Regions from separate parts of the Homo sapiens genome. Here region 1 is linked to region 2. The links come from fine-mapping of genetic effects on gene expression. A gene starts in region 2. The other region holds a variant in brackets. All regions are shown on one strand. Distances are from middle to middle.

Region 1 (4,382 bases), 69 kb after region 2:
TGAGGAGGAGGGAGGCAGGAGCGGAAGAAAGGGAGGCTTCTTTTGCTGCCCCATTGGTCTTTCTGTTGCCTCTTGAGATTTTATCTGTTCCTGTGTGATGTCCCCAACAGTGTATAACTCCTGCCTCAGTTGGGAGATGTGCGGCTTGAAGGAGTTGGTAAATAAGGGGGTGGTTAGTGATAGGGTCACTTTGGCAGTAAGGAATCTCCTCTCTTGCCAGATGGTGGCGTGGGAATGAAGAATGTGATATACATCTTTGGAGTCTGTGTAAGTGTTGACTCGTTTGCCTTTGGAAAGGGTTAGGGCTCTGGTGAGAGCTATGAATTCTGCTTTTTGAGAGGAGGTTCCTGGAGGTAGGGGCTTAGCTTCAATTACTCGGTCAAGGGAAACAACTGCATACCCAGCAATTTTGGGGGAGCCAGTGGGCCCAGAAGGGGGGCCATCTATAAATAGCTGGTCATCGGGGTTGGTGAGAGGCTCGGAGGAAATGTTAGGAAAGTGTGGCTGCAGGTGATCTAGGACGTCAGTGCAAGAATGAGTAGGAAGGGAAGAAGATACAGGGAGTAAGGATGCTGGGTTGAAGGGAGCACTTTTGGCAAGACCGAATTCAGGATTTTTGATAGAGGGCATGGAGTAATTGAATCCGGAAAGGAGGGAGCCTCATGCTCGGGAGGAGAGGAGATCCTGTAGATTATGAGGACTGTAGGTGGTGGTATTTTGACTCAATGTTAGTTTCCTGCTTACAGCTAAAGTGGCCGCTGCTGCTAGCATTCTAAGACAGGTTGGCCATCCTCTGACTGTGTTGTCTAACTGTTTAGAGAGGTAGGCTACAGGGGCAAAGGAAGGAGGGTCTCCTTTCTGTTGCCCTAAGACACCGAGGGCTATTCCTCATCTTTTGGCAGTATAGAGTGTGAGAGGTTGGGAGATACCAGGTAAGGACAGAGCTGGTGCAGTGACAAGAGCGGTTTGAAGTTTGCAGAAGTTGGGGAGTATGTTACGTGAGGGATTTAGAGGCTCACTGAGAGGGCCTTTGGCTGCTTCATAGAGTGGGTGAGCTAGGAGGGCAAAGTTGGGAATCCATATTCTAAAAAAGCCTGCTAGTTCTAGGAAGGAAAGAACTTCGCTTTTGGAGGAGGGCGAGGGCAGATTATCTATTAGTGCTGCTAGGGCAGGGGTCATAGCCCGGGTCCCAGGGGAAAGTTGAACTCCTAGGTAAGTTACTATGGAGGTGGAAAGTTGAGCTTCGGAGGGGGAGACTCTATACCCTTTGATGGAGAGAAAGTTTTAAGAGAGTAACTGTGTGAGTTTGAGAGTCTTCTAGAGAGGGGCTGCAAAGGAGAAGATTGTCCACGTATTGAAGGAGACGGCTAGGGAAAAGGTTTAAGGAAGTGAGATCTTGAGCTAAAGCTTGTCCAAAGAAGTGAGGGTTATCTCTGAAGCCTTGAGGGAGGACAGTCCAGGTTAGTTGTTGTGACTGGAGGGTGTCAAGGTCGGTCCAGGTGAAAGCAAAGAGGTTTTGGGAATCAGGGTGCAGGGGAATAGTAAAAAAAGTCATCTTTTAGGTCAATAGCAGTGTAGCAGGTGGTGTTGGAGGGAATGAGACAGAGAAGTGTAGAGGGGTTAGGGACTATGGGATGAATAGGAAAGACAGCCTGACTGATGGCTCGGAGGTCTTGCAGGAGTCGGTATGAGCCGTCTGATTTTTTAACCAGGAGGATGGTGGTGTTATATGAAGAACGTGTTGGCCTAAGAAGACGGCGTGAACAGAGCTTGTTTGTGATGGGCTGTAAGCCTTTTTGGTGGGTTAGGGAGATAGGGTTTTTGGGGATGCTGGGAAATTTAGAGAGGTCTTTTAACTGGATTTTGATGGGGTCGTGGTGAGTAGCTAGGGAAGGGGTGGTGGTGTCCCACCCTGTTGGGTTTACAAAAGAGGTGGGAAGTGGGTACTGGGGAGAGGGGTCAGGGGCTGGACTCGCA[T/G]AGAGGAGTAGGAGGGACTCCGGTTGAGGGAGGGAGAAAAAGGTGATAGAAGCTTTGAATTTGGCCAAAATTTGAATTTGAATTTGGCTTTGAATTTGGCCTAGGATGGGGGTAGGGCAACGAGGCATGATAAGGAAAGAGTGTGGGAAAACAGTATCAAACAGAGAGCAAGTAAGGGGTCTGGTGGCGCGTGGACGCAAGATGAGTCCATCAGCCCCCACAACTGAGACCTGAGAGGGATGAGTGGGTCCTGAAAATTCAGGCAAAGCTGAGTAGGTGGCCCCGCTATCAATTTAAAAAGAGATCGGCTTACCTGCTACTCGCAGAGTTACCCTGGGCTCCAATGCAGTGATGGCAGATGGGGCCGGGGGCCCTGGGCCCGGTCAGTCCTCAGCGGCTAGGCTGAGGAGCTGCGGGAATGCAAGCGGTTCTTCACTTTTTGTCTTGTTAAAGGGGTGGTGGCTCTGAGGAGCAGGCTTGTCTGTCTGTTGAGAGGACAGTCGGACTTCCAGTGGCCTGTCTGCTGGCACACTGGACAAGGACTCTTTGGCACTCAAGGGTTAGGATACACCCATGCCCAGTGGCCTTCTTTGCCACACTTAAAACAAGGCCCGGAGGGTTGCTGCTATCGGGTCTTTTGTGCCCTTGGGTGATACGGCTGGGTTGATGGACAGCCGCTGCTAGAAGCTGGTATTTAGCACGATCTCTTTGGGCTTTATCTAATTTATTTTGCTCATCCCTGTTATTAAAGACTTTGAAAGCCAAGTTAAGGAGGTCTCGTTGTGGGGTCTGAGGGGCATCTTCAGCCTTTTTAAGTTTGCGCCAGATGTCGGGGGCAGATTGGGAAATAAAATGGATGTAAAGAACAATAGTTCCTTCCCGGGAGGCGGGATCGACACGCGTGTATTTTTGGAGAGTCTCTGTAAGGCGAGAAAGGAATTGGGCAGGGTTTTCATTGGCCTTTTGGGAGATTCCTTTGAGTTTTTCGAAATTTACAGCCTTATGGGCAGTTTTGTTAAGGCCTGCAGTGAGGCAAGTAATCATATGATTACAGGAGGTCTGGCAGGGGCCTGTGGGTTGATACGCCCAGGTACGCTCTTCTCAGGGAACTGCAGCGGCCCCTACTGGCCTAGTAGGATCTTGCCGATGGAGGTCATCGGCATGGGCCTGGGCTGCAAGCCACACTCTTTCCTTTTCTTCCGGAAGGAGGGTAGAAGACAAAATAATATAGAGATCATGCCAAGTAAGTTCATAAGACTGGGTGAGATATTTAAATTATTTGATGTAAGTGTCGGGATCGGAGAAGAACCTGGACGTTTCTCAATTTGGGAAACATTAGAGAGGGAAAATGGGACGTGGACACGGACCATCCCTTCGGCCCATGCCACTTCCCGGAGAAGAAGCAAGGGAGCAGGCTGCTGGGCGTGTTGGGCTCGAGAACGAGTAAGGGGTGGAGATGGGGAGGACTCAGAGTCGGAGGTGGGGTGGTTGGAGAGAAGGGGAGAGAGAGGTAGAGCCGGAGCGGAGGCATACGGTGGGGGGTCATGCTGTTCCGGTGGAGGATTAGGATGTTGTCGAGGAGGGGAGAAATCGGTGGGATCAAAGAAGGAGAAGTCGTCCGCTGGGGCTATTGGGATGAGGGGAGCAGGAGGTGAGTCGGGTTTGGAGCAGGCGAGGAGAATTTGAAAAGTACAGCAGGACTGGCAGAGGGAGGGACGACTACAGAGAGTAAAGAAAGCCTGAACATGAGGAATCTCAGACCACTTCCCACTGCGGTGGCAAAAGTTGTCTAAGTCTCTGAGCATGTCGGAATCGAAAGTGCCATTTTCAGGCCATTGGGAGCCATGGTCTGATTTGTATTGAGGCCATGTGGTGTTACAGTAAAAGATAAGCCTTTTAGGGCAGATTTCTGAACGGAGGCCAAGAGTATACAGATTGTGTAGGAGGCACCCAAGGGGGGTAGTTTTAGGAGGAATAGACTGAGAGGCTCCCATAGTGAATGGAAGGGAGGGGGGTAGAGGAAGAAGAGACTGCCGGTGACGTCCCCTTTCCCGCGGAACTTGTCAGGAATAGAGGAGGTAACCACCGTGTCAGGCGTCCCTGAAACGGAGGAACCAGAGGCCTGGAGGCTGGAGGAAGCCCTTGGCCCAGCGCTGGGTCTTTCGGAAATGGGAGATGGACGGTCAAGAGTTCAGGGAATGGCAACAGTCTCTTTTTACTCACCCTGGCGGAGGCTTTGATGGTGGATGAAGTCACCAGCAATGGGAGAGTCTAGGAGATTGTCTGGGTCTTTGGCAGGTTCGGGGAAGGGGAGATTGGCCAGGAGAGGGGTGATAGGGGAGGGAGGGAGAGAGAGAGAAAAAGAGAGAGAGAGAGAGATTGATAGTGAGCGAGTCCTGGCCAGA
Region 2 (4,382 bases):
CTATTTATTTTTTCAACTTTTTTATTGAGAGAAAATTTACATAAAATTCACCATTGTAACCATTTATTTATTTATTATTTTTTGAGATGGAGTCTTGCTCTGTCGCCCAGACTGGAGTGTAGTGGCAGGATCTCGACTCACTGTAGCCTCCACCTCCTGGGTTCAAGTGATTCTCCCGCCTCAGCCTCCTGAGTAGCTGGGATTACAGGAGCGCATCACCACACCTGGCTAATTTTTGTATTTTTAGTAGTGACAGGGTTTCACCATGTTGGTTGGCCAGCTGGTCTCGAATTCCTGACCTCAGTTGGTCCATCCTCCTCGGCCTCCCAAAGTGCTGGGATTATAGGTGTGAGCCACCACGCCTGGCTTGTTTTGTATTTTATTTATGTATTTGCTTTTTTAGACGGAGTCTCACTCTGTCGCCCAGGCTGGAGTGCAGTGGCGCAATCTCGGCTCACTGCAACCTCCGCCTCCCGGGTTCAAGCAATTCTCTGCCTCAGCCTCCCGAGTAGCTGGGATTACAGGTGCCTGCCACCACACCCGGCTCATTTTTCTATTTTCAGTAGAGATGGGGTTTCACCATCTTGGCCAGGCTAGTCTTGAACTCCTGACCTGGGGATCCACCCGCCTTGGCCTCCCAAAGTGCTGGGATTACAGGCATCAGCCACTGTGCCCAGCCGTTTTGTATTTTTTTAGTAGAGACGGGGTTTCCCCCATGTTGGCCAGGCTGGTCTCGAACTCCTGGACTCAAGTGATCTGCCTGCCTCGGCCGCCCAACGTGCTGGGATTGCAGGTGTGAGCCACCGCGACCGGCCGCTTTCTCTTTCTTTCGAGACAAGGTCTTGCTTTGTCACCCAGGCTAGAGTGCAGTGGTGCTATCATAGCTCACTGAGCCTAGAACTCCTGGTCTCAAGATACCTCCGCCTTATTCTCCTGAATAGCTGGGTTTACAGGCATGTGCCACCGTGCCCGGCTTTTTTTTTTTTTTTTTTTTTTTTTTGAGTCTCTTGCTCTGTCGCCCAGGCTGCAGTGCAGGTGGTGCAATCTCGGCTCACTGCAAGCTCCGCCTCCAGGGTTCACGCCATTCTCCTGCCTCAGCCCCCGGAGTAGCTGGAACTATAGCGCCCGCCACTACGCCCGGCTAATTTTTTTTGTATTTTTAGTAGAGATGGGGTTTCACCGTGTTAGCCAGGATGGTCTCGATTTCCTGACCTCGTGATCTGCCCGCCTTGGCCTCCCAAAGTGCTGGGATTACAGGCGTGAGCCACCACGCCCGGAGTTTTTTTTTTTTTTTTTTTAAGAGGGAAGTGGGGTTTCTCTATGTTGCCCAGGCTGGTCTTGAATTTCTGGCCTCAAGCGATCCTCTTGCCTCGGCCTTCCAAAGTGCTGGGATTACAGGTGTGAGCCACCACACCTGGCCAATTCAGTCTTAAACCAATTTTCTGAGGCTTCGTTTTGGCAAGGCTACTTATCTGTTTTAAAAATAAACGATGTATTTTAGTAAAAGAAAAAAAATGGAGGAAAAAACAGGGTTTTGATCTCATGGAATAATTATGAGGCTAATCTAATGAGCTTCATAAAATACTATACCCATACATAGTATGCTTGTTATTTTATTGTTTTGTCAGGGTCCAGAGAACTAGGCCACTGTGTTGCTTAGGCACCGTGTCTGCACATAGTTCATTCCGGTGTACATTCATTCATCTTTACACTAGAATGTTAGTTTCAAGAACTCAGTCACCTCGTCTACACTGTCCTTTAATCCCCAATACCTGCGACAGTTCCTGGGGCAAAAACAAATGCTTGTTGAATTAAAAAGAAAAACTGGGCCGGGCGTGGTGGCTCACGCCTGTAATCCCAGCACTTCGGGAGGCCGAGGCAGGCGGATCACCTGAGGTCAGGAGTTCGAGACCAGCCTAACATGGTGAAACCCCGTCTCTACTAAAAATACAAAAACATTAGCCGGGTGTAGTGGTGGGTGCCTGTAATCCCAGCTACTTGGGAGGCTGAGGCAGGAGAATCGCTTGAAGCCGGGAGGCGGAGGTTGCAGTGAGCCGAGATCACGCCATTGCACCCCAACCTGGGTAACAGAGCGACACTCTGTCTCAAAAAAAAAAAAAAATTCCTGTAGAAGCTCCCAAGCCCAATTAAAGCTCAAGGCTATCGTCCACGTAGTGGGTTCCAAATCGCTAAGTTCCCAGGCCAGCAGGGAGAGCGAGCCGAGCGAAGGTCGCCTGTGTCAAAGGCGGGGATTTGCACAGTATTTACATGGAAGCGGAGGAAAGGCTGCTTAGCAACCGGGCTGAGGGGACGGGCTGCACTGCGCACGCGTACATGGGCGGGGCATCTTGCGCATGCGCAGGCGACAGCTCATGGCGTTCAGGGCCTGACGGTTGCTAGGGTGACAGGGACACAACATGGCGGCGGGATCTCTAACGCTCTCCTTCGAGGGACCACCACGGAGATCCTAGTGCGGGACCCCGCCTCAGGGAAGTGGAAAGCAGGGGGACAACCTTCCTGCTTCTTTCTTTTCCGTCCAGTGTCGGCAAGGGGTTGTCACCGGCTTCCGCATCCAAGATGAAGAGTGAGTGGGGCCGGGGAAAGGGGCAGGGACTGGAGAGCGAGTGGCGGGGGAGGGAGGGACTGGGGGAGCTTGAGGAGCTTGAGGGGCCTGTGGGGCCGGGCGTCGTCGCCTTCTGCCGTGGCTCGACAGGCCCGGGAGGCTCCGCATGTGGGCCCCGAATCCCCCTCGGCTGTGAGAAGCCGGTGCCCCTGGGGGAAGCTTGAGGGGTTGGGGCTAGGTTGGGAACTTTGGGGTCTCGGAGAGCCGACTCGAGTTCCCGCTCAGGCATATTTTGGTGCAGGTGCGTGGTTCTTACATTGGAGTTTAGGGAGTTGACTGTGATTCATTTTATTTTATTTTAAATGCTGGCTTGAACCTGACACTCTTTTCCTGAACATTCGGCAGAAAACGGGGGAGCGCTTACAGCGTGGCTCCCTGCCTTTTCATGATACTGGTTTAGTGACCAATTGAGAGGAAAGCTGGGCTGTGTGCTTTATTTTATTTTTTGGGTCAAGCAGTAGTGTTTTATAGGAACCACTTTTTAATAGTAGTTTTGAAGCAACCTTTTAGTTAAAAGCTGTTACTTCAAAGTTGGGAAATGAGGTAGTCATTCTAGAAAATGTAACGGGTAAAAAATTTTCTTTAGTGGGATTTGTGGATTATTGACAATCCAAGTGCAACCAGCTAGAATGATGTTTTTAAAATTATTATTACTGTACAGATATAATTGTTTATGGTTGTGAACCAGAGGTGCAGTAAAAATTCAGACCTTTGCTGTGAAAATATTATGTTAGGAGTAGTTATAATGTTAAATTTGCATTGTATCCTAATTGTCAATGGTGTACATTGCATAACATTTAAAATAATTAATCTCATTCACCCTTTACAAGGCATTTTTATTTTTATTTTATTTTGTTGGATATTGTTTAATGTTTACCTTTTTCATTAATGCACTACAAAGCTGTAGTTAGAATCCAAGGTCTACAAAAGACTTTACACTTTTACTTACAGTGCAGACTATGATACTGCACATATTTTGTACTATATTCATTTTTTTCTTCCCATCTGTTTGTTTTGAAAATTTTCAGATGTACAGGAAAGTTGCAAGAGCAGTACATTGAATATTTATAAACCCGTCCTTCACTTAGCTGCACCATTTTGCCTTATTTTTGTGTGCTCGCTTTCGCTCTGGTGTTTTCTCTCTCCCATTTATGTATTTATTTTCACTGGACCTTTCAAGAGTTAGTTGTAGACTACTAATAATTCACCACTTCTTTCAGCAGTTATCTGCCAAGAACAAGGACATTCTCCTACATCATCACAGTACAAATAACACATTTAGAAAATTTAACAATGATACAATACTCTGATACACAGTCCATATTTCAGTTTTTCCATTTATCCCAATAACATGTGTTATAGTTGTTTATATTTTTTCTATCCAATCAAGAATCACCAATTGTATTCTGTTGTCATATCTCTTTGGTCTCTTTTAATATGGTGTCCCTGCCTTTTGTGTCTTTCATGACAATGATATTTTCATTTTTATTTGGCTGTCCTCTGTAGGCCAAATGACATTTTTAAAGAATCCAGCCCAGTGTTTTGCAGAATATCGCTCAATTTGGATTTGTCTGATTTTCGCCTCATGATTAGCTTCAGCTTAAATGTTTTTACCAGGAATATGTGAGAGGCAACGTTGTGTCTCTGTCAGTGTGGCCCTTCCAGAGTGCCTGATGTCAGTTCGTTGCAGTTTTGCTGAAGTTAGATTTGATCATTTGGTTTATTTATCTACCTTCTTTTTCTCTTAGACTCTTTTTTT

Alleles and levels. Alleles are on the strand shown, and positions count from the first base shown. SD is a standard deviation of normalised expression in the study named.
With allele T in place of G in region 1, the expression in testis of the gene that starts at base 2,382 in region 2 is higher (large effect, 1.0 SD a copy in GTEx).

What was found. PIP is the estimated chance that this variant, and not a neighbour inherited with it, causes the effect.
Region 1: its variant is fine-mapped to the expression of MOK in testis (GTEx, PIP above 0.99). The same link has a PIP of 0.9 or more in lung.

The regions. Positions count from the first base shown.
Region 1 is chr14:102,234,203-102,238,584 of GRCh38, reverse strand. All of the region lies in intron 7 of MOK (MOK protein kinase), which reads left to right. Among named protein-coding and RNA genes, the nearest start is that of MOK, 69 kb to the left of the region's middle. The variant T/G (reference allele first, on the strand shown) is at 1,978.
Region 2 is chr14:102,303,164-102,307,545 of GRCh38, reverse strand. It overlaps MOK (MOK protein kinase), which reads left to right and starts at 2,382. Exons shown (of 12, transcript NM_014226.3): 1 at 2,382-2,584. The coding sequence starts at 2,578. RefSeq lists enhancers at 2,163-2,212, 1,979-2,501.